Linked DNA regions of Homo sapiens. The protein of the gene in region 1 interacts with the protein of each later gene in a biochemical or structural test. Each region holds a gene or a part of one and is shown on either strand. Other genes may lie near its edges.

The links. The genes of interacting proteins can lie anywhere in the genome.
Region 2: the proteins of ARHGAP4 (region 1) and ROBO1 interact in a biophysical measurement, tested with the Homo sapiens proteins (one study listed by IntAct).

Annotation. Positions count from the first base shown.
Region 1 is NC_000023.11:153,909,244-153,916,267, forward strand, and holds part of ARHGAP4 (rho GTPase-activating protein 4), read right to left. Parts: intron 4,637-7,024; coding exon 4,535-4,636; intron 4,358-4,534; coding exon 4,166-4,357; intron 4,060-4,165; coding exon 3,975-4,059; intron 3,809-3,974; coding exon 3,781-3,808; intron 3,560-3,780; coding exon 3,457-3,559; intron 1,947-3,456; coding exon 1,886-1,946; intron 1,757-1,885; coding exon 1,679-1,756; intron 1,592-1,678; coding exon 1,457-1,591; intron 1,369-1,456; coding exon 1,263-1,368; intron 1,162-1,262; coding exon 928-1,161; intron 843-927; coding exon 769-842; intron 682-768; coding exon 498-681; intron 293-497; coding exon 200-292; intron 1-199. UniProt on the Homo sapiens protein: Inhibitory effect on stress fiber organization. May down-regulate Rho-like GTPase in hematopoietic cells.
Region 2 is NC_000003.12:79,764,987-79,772,898, forward strand, and holds the start of ROBO1 (roundabout homolog 1 isoform a precursor), read right to left. Parts: upstream 3,013-7,912; 5' UTR 2,766-3,012; exon of another isoform or gene 2,475-2,765; intron 1-2,474. UniProt on the Homo sapiens protein: Receptor for SLIT1 and SLIT2 that mediates cellular responses to molecular guidance cues in cellular migration, including axonal navigation at the ventral midline of the neural tube and projection of axons to different regions during neuronal development.

The DNA of each region.
Region 1 (7,024 bases):
CTGGGGTGTGGCCAAGGAAAGGAGGCTGGCCCAGTGGTCCCCAAGCTCCTCTAGAGCCTCTCCCTGTCACAAGCTGGGTCATTCTGTCACGTCCTCATCTGCCAACTCCTCCCACTCCCACTGGCCAAAGCCTGACCCCAGTCCCCTCTGGCCTAGAACAGCACACGTGTGGCCCCCTGAGCCCCGTCTTCTTGCTCACCGGTGGACCAGCTCCGATGCCAGGAGGCCCTCGGGACTGCTCCCAGACTCCCCTGCAGTCTGCAGCCCTGCGCCCACCACCTGCTTCTCCGTCCTGCGGTGGGAAGGACCGGCCTGTTTCGAGTGCTCCTTCCCTGCACGGGGTCCAGGGCCAGCAGCTCCGCGCCAGCCAGGAGTGGTCAGAGAGGCTCTGTTCTCTGGCCCAGCCCAGACCTTCAGAATCTAACTTGGGGTCGGGGGAGGGGTGGATGAAGGGGAGACTCCGGGAGCCCTGGGGCCTGAGGGCGCGGCTCACTCACCCGGCGGGCAGCGTGATATACTTGTGGGGGATGAGGCCCCGCATGCCGTTGTGCTCCCCCCGCCACCAGTCGCTCGAGGCCCTCTCGTGCAGCCGCAGTACGTCCCCCCGCCGGAAGCTCAGCTCCTGGGCTGTGCGGCCCGTGTAGGCAAAGCAGGCCACAGCCTCCACGACCCCCTCCAGGTCTGGGGAGGAGAGGGGGTCCAAGCTGTGGGAGGGGGTGTGGACACTAGGGTGGGGACAGGGTGGGGCTCTCTGCCCATCGCCCTCACCATCCTCCTGTGCGGGCATCTCGGCTTCCAGCTCCGGCTCATTGTCCGCCCCCAGGCTCTCCAGCTGGGCGTCCCTGAGGTTCAGGGCAGAGCGAGGCAGATGAGGGGGGCTCTTCTCCAGTGGACCCCCCAGTCCCCTCGGCAGCACCAAGGGTGTACCCCAGGCAGCTGGCGGAAGGCGGTGCCATGCACTTCTCGTAGACGGGGCCAGGCAGCGAGGTCAGGGGCGGGAAGACCCGATCGGGCTGCACTATGAGCGTCTGCACCAGCTGGTTCACCCGGCCCTGCAGCGCCACCGGGTCCTGCCCAGCGGGCACCGGTAGCAGCGTGGGCCCGAAGCACACGGCCAGGTTGTAGGGGTCCATCATGTTCTCATCGCTGTACTGGGCCAGGCTGGGGGGACACGCACATCACAAGCAGAGAGCCCGCACCCCGAGTCCCCCTGTCCCCTCGACCCCTGGCCCCCACCCCAGCACTCGCCCCGCAGCACTCACTGGTTGAGGAAGGTGAAGAGGTAGCGCAGAACCACCAGCACCGGCGCGGGCAGCCGCCACAGCAGGCGGCTCACGTGCTCCACCCTCTCCGCTGTGGCCTCCAGCTCTGTGGCCAAAGCCGCCCAGAGAGAGCCGCGTGAGCGGGGCTGCCCCAGCAAGTGCCCTACCCCGCCAGCCTCAGGCCCCAGCCTCACCCGAAGAAGCCAGCAGCTCGCCGAACAGGTCTGGGGGGAAGAGTGGGGGCTCCAGGCTCCGGAAGTAGAGCTTCAGCACCCCGGCCACCGAGTCCAGGTCATGGGCAGTGCAGCCCTCCACCAGTGGGTCCTCCCCTGCAGATGGGCGAGTGGTGCGGTAGGGGGAGGAAGCTGGTGACATCTGCCCGAGCCCCCACCCCCGCCCGCCCTGCCCGTCCCCACCTCTCTCGAAGGCATCACGGATCTCTGAGACCCGGAGCTGGGCACCCGATACCCGGAAGATGCCTTCATGCTGCAGGCCTGTGGGAGGACAAGGAGCTGGTGGGCACTGAGCATCTTCCCCAGCCCCTCCAGGATGGCCTCCCATGCCAGGTGCTGGGAACTGGGTGCTGGGTGCCAGGACATCGGGAGGGGCTGGGTCCTGCTTACCATTGAGGTTGATGAAGCGAATGCAGCTCTCCACCACCAGGGGCACAGGCTGGCCTGAGCTCTGGGGACAGAGGGTGTTTACTTCACCATGGACACAGCATGCCCTGTGTTGTCATTCAATTGCTTTTTTTTTTTTTTTTTTTTTTTGAGACAAGGTCTCACTCTGTCACCCAGGCTGAAGTGCACTGGCGTGATCTCGGCTCACTGTAGCCTCAGCTTCCTGGGCTCAAGTGATACTCCTGCCTCAAGCTCCCCAATGGTGGGATTACAGGCATGAGCCACCGCACCAGGCTGAGTGCTTTTATTTTCTCTGAAGAACACATCATCGTTGTCGGCACAGAGGCTTAGCACACCGTTTGTTAGATCCACTCGTAGGTGTCTGATATTTTTGATGAGGTTTTAGGCAGTGCCTTACGTTGTATTTGCAAATTGTTGCTGGAATATACAAATGCAATTGAATTCTGTACACCAATCTTGAATCAAGTAACATTTCAAAACTCAAGCTGGGTGTGGTGGCTCATGCCTGTAATCCCAGCACTTTGGGAGGCCAAGGGAGGAGGATCACCTGAGGTCAGAAGTTCGAGACCAACCTGACCAACACGGTGAAACCTCACCTCTACTAAAAATATAAAAATTAGCCAGGTGTGATGGTGCACACAGCTACTTGGGAGGCTGAGGCATGAGAATCGCTTGAACCCCAGCAGGTGGGAGGTGAAGGTTGCAGGGAGCTGAGATCGTGCCACTGCACTCCAGCCTGGGCAACAGTGCAAGAACCAGTCTCAACAAATAAAAAAAAAAAAAAAAAGAAAGAAACTCAAAGTGCTCGTTTAAAGAATCTGTTGATTCTTTTGAATATGCTACACGCATAACCACATCACTGAAAATGACGATATCAGTTCTGATCTTCTGGTATTCTCCATGCCTGGCCCTCTCTGATGCTTGCTTGCTTCTTTTCTTTTCTTTCTCTCTCTTTTCCTTCCTTCCTTCTTTCCTTCCCTCTCTCTCTCTCTCTTTCTTTCTTTCACTGGGATTACAGGCACGTGCCACCATGCCTGGCTAATTTTTGTATTTTTAGTAGAGACGGGGTTTCACCATGTTGCCCAGGCTGGTCTCGAACACCTGGGCTGAAGGGATCTGCCCACCTCAGCCTCCCAAAGAGCTGGGATTACAGGTGTGAGCCACCGTGCCTGGCCCCCTCTGATGCTTTCTGATCTCAGTATTAGTTTTCTGATCTTTCTTGCTTCCCCTTATTTCACTGTCCAGGACCCCCAGTACCATGCTGGCCAGAAGTCGCAGGGGAGAAGCTCTCAATATCTCGCCCCTAAAAATGCCGCTGCCCCAGGTTTTCTATACGTTCCCATTACTAGTTAAGGATGCTCCCTTCAATCAGCGGAGGCTATAGGGGAGCCCAACAGTGGCCTGGAAGAGGCCCACCCAGAAAAGGACAGTTGATGACTGATTGAGAGTGGAGGACCCTGGGATCAGGCAGCTGCTCCGGCCACTGAGGTGACCCAGAGCTGAAGAAAGATCAGCATGTACAGGTGGGCTGGCATGTGGGGCAAAGCTAGTACCTGGATAAACTTCTCCATGTCTCCCCCAAAGAGTCTCTGGTTATACTGGGAGCTGGGGCGGGGCTGGCGGCTCTTCTGGAATTTTCTCTGTGTGTACTGGGTCCTGCAGTGAATGGGAGCTGGCTCTGAGGGGGCCAGGTGTGGAGAATAGGGTGCCCCACCCCCCAGGCCAGCCAAGCCGGCCTCTAATTCTCTGAAGTTATTCCACAATCCAGTGCGAAAACTGGGGAAGTGAGGCCCAGGGGATTGGGCAGCTGAGCTGGGCCCCAGGAAGAGAAGAGATGGCGGACCGTCGCAGGGCCCCAGCCCTCAGGGAGGACTCACCAAGACACCTCCTGCTCCTCCTTGTCACCTGTGGGGTGGGAGAACATTGGTCTGCCTCTCGGGCCAGGGGTCTTCAAGGCATCCCAGAGAGAAAGGTGTGGATAAGAGCCAAGGACAGGCGGGAGGGGAGGACCGTGGGCTAGACAGGGTCCTGGGCAGGGGAGAGGCGGGGAAGGGGGCAGCACTGGGCCCACCTCGCTGAAGGGCCTCCTGCAGCTTCTCGTGCTTGGCCTGCAGCTTGGCGAGGATGCTCCGTCCACTCAGATACTCCTGGAGCTTCTGGGCAGCCCCAAGAAGAGCCCCAAGTGTTAGCCCTGGCTTGAGCCCCTCCCTCTGCCCCAGCAATGCCCCCACGGGTCCCGCCCACCAGCCCAGCCCTCCCCACCGTGAGGTAGAAGGTTTCGGTCTCCTGCTGCTGGCCGCGCCTCCGGCCCGCCTGCCGGCTGCCTGGGTCTGAGCTGGTGGACTTGAGGGACTCGGTGGAGGGGCTGGTCTGGAAGGAATCAAGCACATCCCCGTCATCCGAGGCCACCACCTCCAGCAGGGCCTGCAGTGTCGCCTTCAGAGTCTTGTTCACCTGCAGAGGAGACCACACCAGGGTGGTAAGAGGTGGGGGACAGGGAGGGAGACAGGAAGTCCAAGTCAGAAGGAAGGGGCCAAAGGGAGGGGGGCAGGCAGGGCAGCCACTTCCAACAGCAGGCTGTACAGGCTCCAGGCCCTCGTCTCCCTCTAACCCCCGGTGGGCTGCCCAGACCTCCTCTGTCTCAATGGTCTGTCGGTCCAGGCGGCTCTGGATGTTCTGGGCTCTGGGCAGAATCTCGTCCCGCAGCTCCATTTCAACGCAGATCTCAGCCACCTGCAGAGGGCGGCGGCCAGGGGGCTAAGGGCTGGGCTTGGGCAGTAGGTGCCAAGATCCCCGGGGCATAAGGGAAGCAAGCACCCTTTTGTGGCCTGGCGGCCGGGCACAGGACCACCAGCCCAGACGCTCAGCTGAAGAATGGCAGGAGTGAACACACGTGTCCAAACCAAGACTTGTCCACAGAGGTTCGTGGCGGCACCACTCATCCAACTGACGGATGGCTAAACTCAGCGCGGTCTACCCACAGAATGGAAGAGGATTCAGCCACGAGAAGGAATGAATCCACTTATGTGAAGTGTCCAGCCAGGCAAATCCATAGAGACAGGAAGCAGAGTGGGTGCCAGCTGGAGCAGTGGGGTGCCAGTGGGGCTGGAGAGGAGAACGGGGAGTAGTGGCTCCTTTAGGGGTGACAAAAATGTTCTGGAATTACATGGTGATGGCTGCACAACCACCAAATTGTACACTTTACAGTGCTGAATTTTATGGTATATGAATCGTACCTTAATAAAACTCTATTTAAAACAGAATGGTGGCCCGGCGCAGTGGCTCACGCCTCTAATCCAAGCACTTTGGGAGGCTGAGGCGGATGGATTATCTGAACTCAGGAGTTGGAGACCAGCCTGGCCAACACGGTGAAACCCTGTCTCCGCTAAAAATACAAAAAATTAACTGGGCACGGTGGCATGCGCCTGTAGTCCCAGCTACTTGGGAGGCTGAGGCAGGGGAATCGCTTGAACCCGGGAGGCGGAGGTTGCAGTGAGCCAAGATGGAGCCATTGCACTCCAGCCTGGGCGACAGAGCGAGACGCCATCTCAAAATAAAATAAAATGAAATAGAATGGTAAGGAAGACTGGGGTCTGAGACAGAACAGGGAGAGCCCAGCCCCACCTCTTCCAGGGAAAGGAGTGGACGGAAAAACTGCTCACTGTAACTGGGCAGACATAAATTTCCCTGTGGCAAGATGAGAGCAGCTTGCCTCATGGGCAGAGTGGGAGCCAACGCTTTAGAAAGGAAGGAATTACTCTTTTAAGCATGTAGACATCTAGAAAATTGACATTACAGTTAAAATTGAGAGTGAGGATTCAGCTGTGGCTAAACACTTGCCCTGCTCTCCATCTCCACCAAGCCCCGCCGTACAGGACTGCATGAAGGCGCAAGTCACAGAGTAGAAAGTAAGGCCATTTTGAGATGGGCTCCAACATGGCTGACCCTTGAGGACATGGGACTCAGTGAAAGGAGCCAGTCACAGAAAGGCCCGCACTGTAGGATTCCACTCCTGTGAGGGGCCTCAAAGGAGAGCCGTGAACTCTGTAGAGACGGACAGTGGAAGGGTGGGTGCCAGGGCTGGGGGGTGGGGAGTTGGGGTTGAACGGGGCCAGAGCTTCAGTTTGGGAAGATGAACAAGTTCTGCGGCTGGATGGTGGTGATGGCTGCACAGCACCGTGAATGTGCTTCTGCCCCTGGGCCGCACACTTACAAATGGTGAACGTGGTATGTTTTATGCTATGTGTATTCTGCCACACCTTTTTTTAAAAGTCCATCTAGGCTGGACTGGCTCACACCTGCAATCCCAGCACTTTGGGAGGCCGAGGCGGGTGGATCACTTGAGCCCAGGAGTTTGAGACCAGCCTTGGCAATATGGTAAAACCCTGACTCTACCAAAAATACAAAAATTACCCTGTCTCATAACCTGGTCTCAAAATAAATAAATAAATAAGTAGGTTAAAAATAATTGTTTTTAAAGTACAAATCTTAGCCACGCATGGTGGCATGCACCTATAGTCCCAGCTACTCAGGAGGAGGCTCAGGCAGGAGGATGGCTTGAGCCCAGGAGTTGGAGGCTGCAGTGAGCTATGATCACACCACTGTACTCCAGCCTGGACAACAGAGCCAGACCCTCTCTCTAGAGAAAAAATAAGTGTATGCATACTCTGGGGAACATTGAAATTTTATCCCTCCTCTAAACTCACACGATCAGCAGAAAACTAACAATTTGCTCTCTGGAAAGGATATAGCAGGGATTTTGGACTCAGGGACACTGGTCCCAGATGAGGAAGATGAGAGAACACAGCAGCCCCACCATCGGAAGCTGGCCTGGTCCTATCAGCCCGGCCTCAGTGCTGTCCTGCTGAACACCGGAAATGACCCAGAGCATCAACATCAGGCAAGGCCACTGTGTGACCTTGATGGGCGAAGACAGAAACAAGACCACTCTGCGATCACGCATGAGTGAGGACAAAATCAAGAACTTCTTCCGAGCCACAAAATCATCCCTCCATCCTGGCTAATGTAAGTGACTGTCACTTCCTTGCATCACTTCAGCCTCCATCACTGTCTCTTTCTAGATAAGATTAATCAAGACATCCAATCATACAATTACCCTGC
Region 2 (7,912 bases), on another chromosome or scaffold:
TAACCTTCATAGAGTAGAGCCCAGAAGATGGTAACACTGGTTCAAGGACAGGCTAAGGGAAGCGAAGGGAAGTAAAAGGAAGTAAATAGGAAAATACAACAAACATGTGATTAACAGCTGTTTTCTGAAGCAAGGCTCCACCAGGGATCTGCAGCTGTGTCATTGTGCTTCAATTCTGCAGCTCCTACAGGGCTAAATTGGAAGAGGCATGGAGCAGGAAGATATGTGCGAAAAGGCTAAAGGAAGTCCAAAAACCGTGGCAACAATATAAGGTGAATGCCCCCACTCCTTAGATATCCTAATTTTTATCCCTCATGGGAGAGGTATAGGTCCATAAGAAACAAAGTCATCTTACCAACTGGATATCTGCTCCGAGCTGCTGCTGCTTCCTCTTCCTTTTTTTGGGGGGTGGGGGCCGATTTTGGAAGGGCAAATATTGATGGAACATCTACCAACACTGCCTCTTCCCTTTAACAAAATCAACATGATGCATGCTTACAGATTGCCTTTGAAAGTTACCAGTGCCTCCTCAAGATATAGTAGAGAAGCAGGTTTTAAGGTGTCAGACTGAGGCTTTCAAAATAATAGCTGCTAGGAGAATACAAGTTTGGGCCTGAAAACCCAGTTATGAGGCTTCCAAATAAATCAGTGGATTTTCAACTTTTTTTTGTAATTATTATATCCTAGTTCCCAAACAACCACAGTAAAGGAGGCACATGGAAAGCGAGGAAAAAATGAAATGGCATTGTCTTCCCCCAGGTGCTCAATCAGTATATTTCCTTTGATGTGTAGCCTTCAAGTAACTGACAACCCCAAGTGGCCCATTCTATAGGGTCCTGCATCTACGCTCCTTCCTCTGTGCGCTCAGCCCGGGTTGACAAGCAACCTCCAAATTAAACAACCTCCCACCACTACTTGGAAACAGACAACCATCTCTTAACAGGCCTCTGTAACACACAGCTTGATGAAAATCACTTACACAGGGCAGATGACACAGAGGAGTTTACAAGGTCGGGGCACTCCTTGGCGGGGCGTGAAAGGGTGGGAGGTGCTGAGGTCAGGGTTAAACTACCCTGTGAAATGAGCCTCCTGCCCTGCCCTTTCCTCCCTTCATCTATAGAAGGAGCCTCCAGTGAGTTCCTGCGTCTGGAAATCTGCCCCCTTTAGTGCCGCAGACAGGCCAGGGACAGCATTTCAAAGCTCCTCTAAATCAATCCACTTAAAAGAGCCCAGAAAAGCCTGACCATTGACCATAATTGCCCTAAATTGCTTGTTTTCCTTCCCCTCTTGCAGCCTCATCAACATTTCCCTTCTTTCCCCCTTCGTGTCCTTTTTTCTTGGGGGCGCAGGTCCTCTAGATGCTTGGGGTGCACACTAAGGATATTTGAGTAGTGGGAGCTCCGACTCGAGGCAGGAGTGGGATGTCTTAGCATTCCGTCTCCCCCACCCCACCCATCTGCGTGGGACACAGTGACTCCTAGAAGGGTATCCCAGGATTTTAGCGGCCAGGTGTGAGCGCCCTCCACGCGGTCCTCCGAGACCTCAGGGCGCGTGGCAACTGGGCAGAAGCCGTCTCTGCAGCGCCGCTGCCCCGGGTGGAGCGGCAGCCCAGGCTGCAGCAGTGGGGTTGCCACGCCGAGTTTTCCGCATCGGCCGCCCGCAGGGCTCGCCTGCTTCTCCCCATTGTGTTCTCAGAGCTGTGGGACCCAGCCGCGCGCGCAGCCGCACCCGCGCCAACGCTGGAACCGAAGGCTCATGGAAGCGGGGCTGGCAAGATGGGGCAGGGAGAAGGAGCAAGAAGGGGCCCCAGAAGGGCACGGCGTTTCATCAATAATGCAGAGGCTCCTGGACCTCCCTGCAATACGTTTTCCAGCTAAACGCCACCAACTGGAGCGCTTCCTGGTTCGTCCCACTCGTGTGGTTTTTGTGTGTGAAAGATGGGACGCACCTTTTTCATTCATCTGTCTTCTCTCATTCTTCCTCCTTCCCTCCCTCATTTCCTCCCTCAAAGTCCCCGCTGGCTTAGCTTTAAGCTCTCGTCTTCACATCAGCACCATGTTTTCAAGCAAAATCCTGCAGGTTGGAAATGCAAGTGTCAAAAGTCCCCACTGCCTACATACCGCCAAGAGTTTACCAAAATCCACCTAGTAACGCTTATTTTCAAAGCCCCCACGCGCATCCATTCCTGGAGAATGCTTTCAAAGTTTGGAAGCTCCCTGCAGCCTGCCCGTGTCTATGCCTCAGTCAGCTCACATCACGAACAACGGTGCGGTCAGCGGCACTGAGATTAGGCTGCAAAGTTGCCCGGCCCCAGCCCACTACACCGCTGATGCTCGCCGCATCCCTAGAGCAAATTCCGCTGTGTGCCCCCAAGAAGCCAAAAGCGGCACGAAACCTACTCCAACAAGGGTTAGCCCAGCCACACACACAACAAACAAATTCCAAAACTTCTTTGTTAAGCAGCCGCAGCCTACCTGGAACGGACACTCTGCACAACTGGCAAGGAAGAAACAAACATCGCATCCCTGCAGGAAAACTTGTTGAATCCCTCCCGATCGCAAGGCTGCAATTTCCGATTTAGCCTGAAGGTTTTTGATTCTACCCCAAAACACCCTGGCGCATCAGCCACAATTTCTGGATAAACTGCAGAGTCCTCTCGGCAACCATTCTGCACTCCAACAACCACTAGTGTAAAACCCAGCGTGTCCCCTTTTACAAATCAAAAGCCAGCTGTCACTTCCCTTGCAACCATTTCCGAGACTTACCCTTCCATAAGACTGTTTTCAGCAATCTAGAGGCTCCGTAGTGCAGACGCAGCCCTGCAACTTTGCTGTGCACTGAGACCTTTCCGAGTTTAAACCAAGCGAAAGGTGACAGACTTTTAAACCTAAGAGTGGGGAAATAGGGAGAGAGTGAAGTCGGGTTTCTTCTCTGTATCAGCACCCTGGAAAAATTCAATCCTTCTTCAGTAGAGAATTCTTTCAAACCCGTTATCTGTATTACTATTAATGCGCAGAGCAGAAGGCATTGCATACAAATAGGTCCAAGTGTGCGCTTCTATTGGTGGCTGCGGAGGCCCCTGGGTCCTACTGCTCCGGTCTAAACTACACAGCAACACTAGGCACGCAGCTTTGGAGACGCCGAGGGGAAAATGGATTTAATTGATTCGTTACCTCTGGTATTGTAATGCCTGCTGCGATGTTTAACCGAGGGGGGAGGAAAAAAAAAAAAAAAAACCCTTACATTTAACTCCTGTCATGTGATCTATCATTCCATAGCTGCTTTTAATTGTCTGTGTGGAGTGGCTTTGATCATACAAAGGATTTTAAAAGAACATTTTCGAAGGAAAATTCACACAGACACTTTTGGCAGGAAAACCCTCTTTTGCTCTCTATTATGCATTATTCTCATATAAATCCAGGAAATTTTATATAATCAAATACTTCTGCACTTCACGTAGGTACACACAACACCCAATTGTATTTACAATTCATAGCTACTACAAATAAAATACCTTACATGGGTAGTAGATAGTAGAAGCTAAAATATGAGTCTACCAATTATAAAACACGGGTTATATTAGTCAAATGCTACAGAAAAAATTCCATCAATGACAATGGCGTCAGCATCATTTTTACTTCGCAAAATTAGAAATTCAAAAATATTTTCCTTGTAAATATTGACATAAAGATATAAATCAACATAAAGGTATTATAATGTCACAGTATGTCAAGCATTTACTATTAATTGCTACATTATCTTTTTACAGTTTCTCTCTTAGCAAGTTCATTAGTAATGCAAATTGGCATAACAAGGAGATTTAAAGTGAGGCCGACCTGTGGTGACTAGCAATTTGAAATATTGTAATAGTGTGCAAAATCACTTTAGTTCATCATCGGTAAAGCCAGTTATTTTAAGAATTAGAATATTAAATGCTGAATCTTAATATATATTAATTTGAAGTCTTAAACATGCTGTTTTCTTTGACCTTTAATTTTGTGGAGGAAAAGAGAAATCCTTATTTAAACTAAAATGACATAGACTTTCCACAAAATCCTAGATACGATATTTACTGATATTATAATTTAGGAAGTAACATAATTTTATTGTCTTTGATGTAAATAATTGTGATAAATTCCAATTTAATTACAAAATTATTACATATATGTAATGTACAACTGAATGAACATTGTTGGAAAGGGCCACTCTGGATAAGGTTAACATCAACCAACCTATAAATTCACTACCTATGTGTAAACTAAATAAATGAAAACACAATGCAAAAATACAACAGACTCGAGATCTTATTCCAAATACATGTAAAGCATTTGAATTTATGTAGTGTGTGCTACAATCCCTCTTCATTTCCGTAACTCTTTCCCTTTACAGCCCCTTCCCTTCCCCCAATCAGTAACCCTTGACAACAGAAGTGTTAACTTCAAGTCCAGGTTGCCTTTGCTGCCTTCCAGACCTAACTTACAGATTGCATCCTTGTAGGAAACAGAGTTAACTCTTACACGACTGAGAGGTGAAAGAAGAGAGTTTCTTTCAGGGATTAGAAAATCCAGTATTTTTATGTGTATTTGCAAAGTTTGCACCAAACACATATTTTTAAAAATATCCATGATCACTAATTCAGAGTGAAAAGATGTGATCATTGGCATTGTATCAGAGTCAATTTGCTGTATATATCCATTGCTATTGTGTCACTGAAATAGCTTTTGAATAACTTTTATTCAGGGTTACTTCAATCACTTTACTTCAGGTTAATAATTTCTCCATTTACAATAGAGTTAAAATGAAAATACCAAAGTGTTGCAATATTCAGTATAAGGGTATAAAGGACTTTTTTTTAATCTGTAAAAGAAAAGAAAAGCTATTATTTCATATAGTAAGAAAAGCATAATGACCATGCAAAGTTGAATAAAGATGACTGACATTCATCTTATTTCTAAAACAAGTAAATTATTGGTGTTTCAACTTCTTTCTACAAGGGGATCTGAAAAAAATCATTTGCAACCCAACTACAAGTTGAAAGTTCTGCATTTAATGTGTATCATTTTAGAACTGAGAAAAGATGTGTTTTACACAAGCTGACAGATTTTATACAAAATCAATGCAGCTTATCTATGACCATAATTAAATGGGGAAGTTTGATAGTGGACACATATAATAGTGAACAGAAGAAAATAAATAAACCAAAACTGACCTAATAACAAATTTATTATATAATCTCTTGATAAGTTTTTACTTTCTATATAAAAGACTGATGTAAAAATATAGCAAGCTAAACAGAAACTTAAGTTTAACTTACTATTTTTTTAAAAAAGTTTTCTACATCTCTTCAATAAATTACTTGTTTATCCAAATTATTACCATATGAGATGTATATATATATATATATATATATATATATATATATATATATAAAATAAATATATAGTTGTAAATGTTGCAAATATATTTTCCTTACTTCTTGGATACTAAGGCAAAACATATTTTAAAGAAGGATATTAGAACCACAATAGTTTTCATATATCCTAGATCTGTAGGAATATCCTTGATCTATTCTTTATTATTTGAAGTATTGTTGGACCCCTCATTTTGTCAGTGCAATTTTCAAGGACAATATATGCTATGTCAGAAACTGATATCCATTATGTCCTTGGATCATGATGACAATGCCTTATTGTGGTTACTGTGAACATCTATAAAAGTTGGAAAGCAAAACATACATGGCATATCCCTGTCTGTCATTACTACAATCAGCTTCCTTTCTAAATTTAGGTGGGTAAACACGCAATAGCATGCCACTTGATAAAACTTAATGAAATATAATGACATTCAGCTACTATCCAAGCTATTTAAAAAATTCTGCCTTGAGTAATTTTGAAATATGTATAGTTTAAAAAATTTCAAAGCCACAGGCATTGATCTATGTGTCTCTTTAAATAGAATATTTATCCATGCTTGATTTTGACAGATGAAAAGGAAAACTACCAGACATATAAATTATATTCTGAAAGCAGAAATATAAAGAATGTTAACAGCTAAACAGGCATCTTTAAAAGTGTAAATCAGTACTAAACAGCAATATATATATACACACATATATATGTATATATACACATATATACACACATATATGTATATATACACACATATATACACATATATGTACACACACATATACACATATATGTACACACACATATACACATATATGTACATACACACATATACACATATATGTACATACACATATATACACATATGTGTACATACACACATATACACATATGTACATACACACATATACACACATATGTACATACACACATATATACGCATATATGTACATACACACATATATACGCATATATGTATATACACACATATACGCATATATGTATATACACACTTATATACACACATATACACATATATACACATATACACATATATACACACATATACACATGTATACACATATACGCATATATACACACGCATACACATATACTCATATATACACATGCATACACATATACGCATATATACACATATATACACATATACGTATATAGTCACATGTATACACATACGTATATATACACATGTATACACATATACGTAAATATACATATATATATACACATATACATATGTACACATATGTATACATGCACATATACACACATATGTATACATGCACATATACACACGTATACATGCAACATATACACACATGTATACATGCACATATACACACATGTATACATGCACATATATACACATCTGTATATATGCACATATGCACATATATACACATCTGTATATATACGCATGTATACACATCTGTACATATACACATATATATGCACATATGTGTATATATATGTTGCAAGACACCACATCTAAATACATGGCTCAAAACTAATCTGTATGAATTGCTAAAGTAGGTGAAGAAAGTACAGCTCAAGTGTTAAAAATATCTATATAAGATGATACGTTTGAGAAGAAAGATAGAACTTCAAAAAGGTCAATTAAACTTGACATTAAGTGGAAGGGATGAGAACTTCATGGCACAGTGATTTGGTTAAGATGATCACCATAAATGGAATGCTCATATTAAAATTCCAATAAAAATTTGCAAAGAAAGAGGCTAGAAGAGGATATTTTCTACTATTAACAAGATTATAAAGCAAACAAGATTATAAAGCAAACAAGATAAAAGTTGACAATAAAAGTGTGGAAGTAAAATACTTTGGCAAAACAACACAAACACGAAATAGGGTTGGCATCTACTATAGACTTTCCAGATTAGAGAAAATGTTAATAGATAATTTTAAATTTGAACAGGAAGTTCTTAAGATTTCTACCTATTGTCCTAAGAAATCTGGGAATAAAAGCTCCACATACTTTTGTGAAAACAGACAAAAAATTTAAACCTATGTAAAATGTCAGATAAATTTTGAATTAGAGCAAATAAATGAATATAAATATACATATATACAATATTATGCCACCATTACTCCACTAATTAAGAGCTGAACAACAATTTTCTGTATGTTATATGAAAGTTAATGGTCAGATTTCATGGTTTGCCCTTCAAAAGACACAACTGTTTACACTATTTAGAAGGAAATCTAACCAAACTTTAATGTATTTAAAGGCTATTCATTTGATCTCTTTTAAAGACTCCCAAAGACTTGCTTATAAAGCATAATAAGACAGAAATAATTTTAAACTATATTTTTATTCGTATACCATAATTCTTAGGTAGCTAAATTTAATCATATTCCGTTATTTGCTTTTGTCCTGGACCAACTTCAAAAGCTAACATTAAAGTTATGAATCACTTACTCATTCAGTTAAGGGAGGAGACCACCCCTCATATTGTCTTATGCCC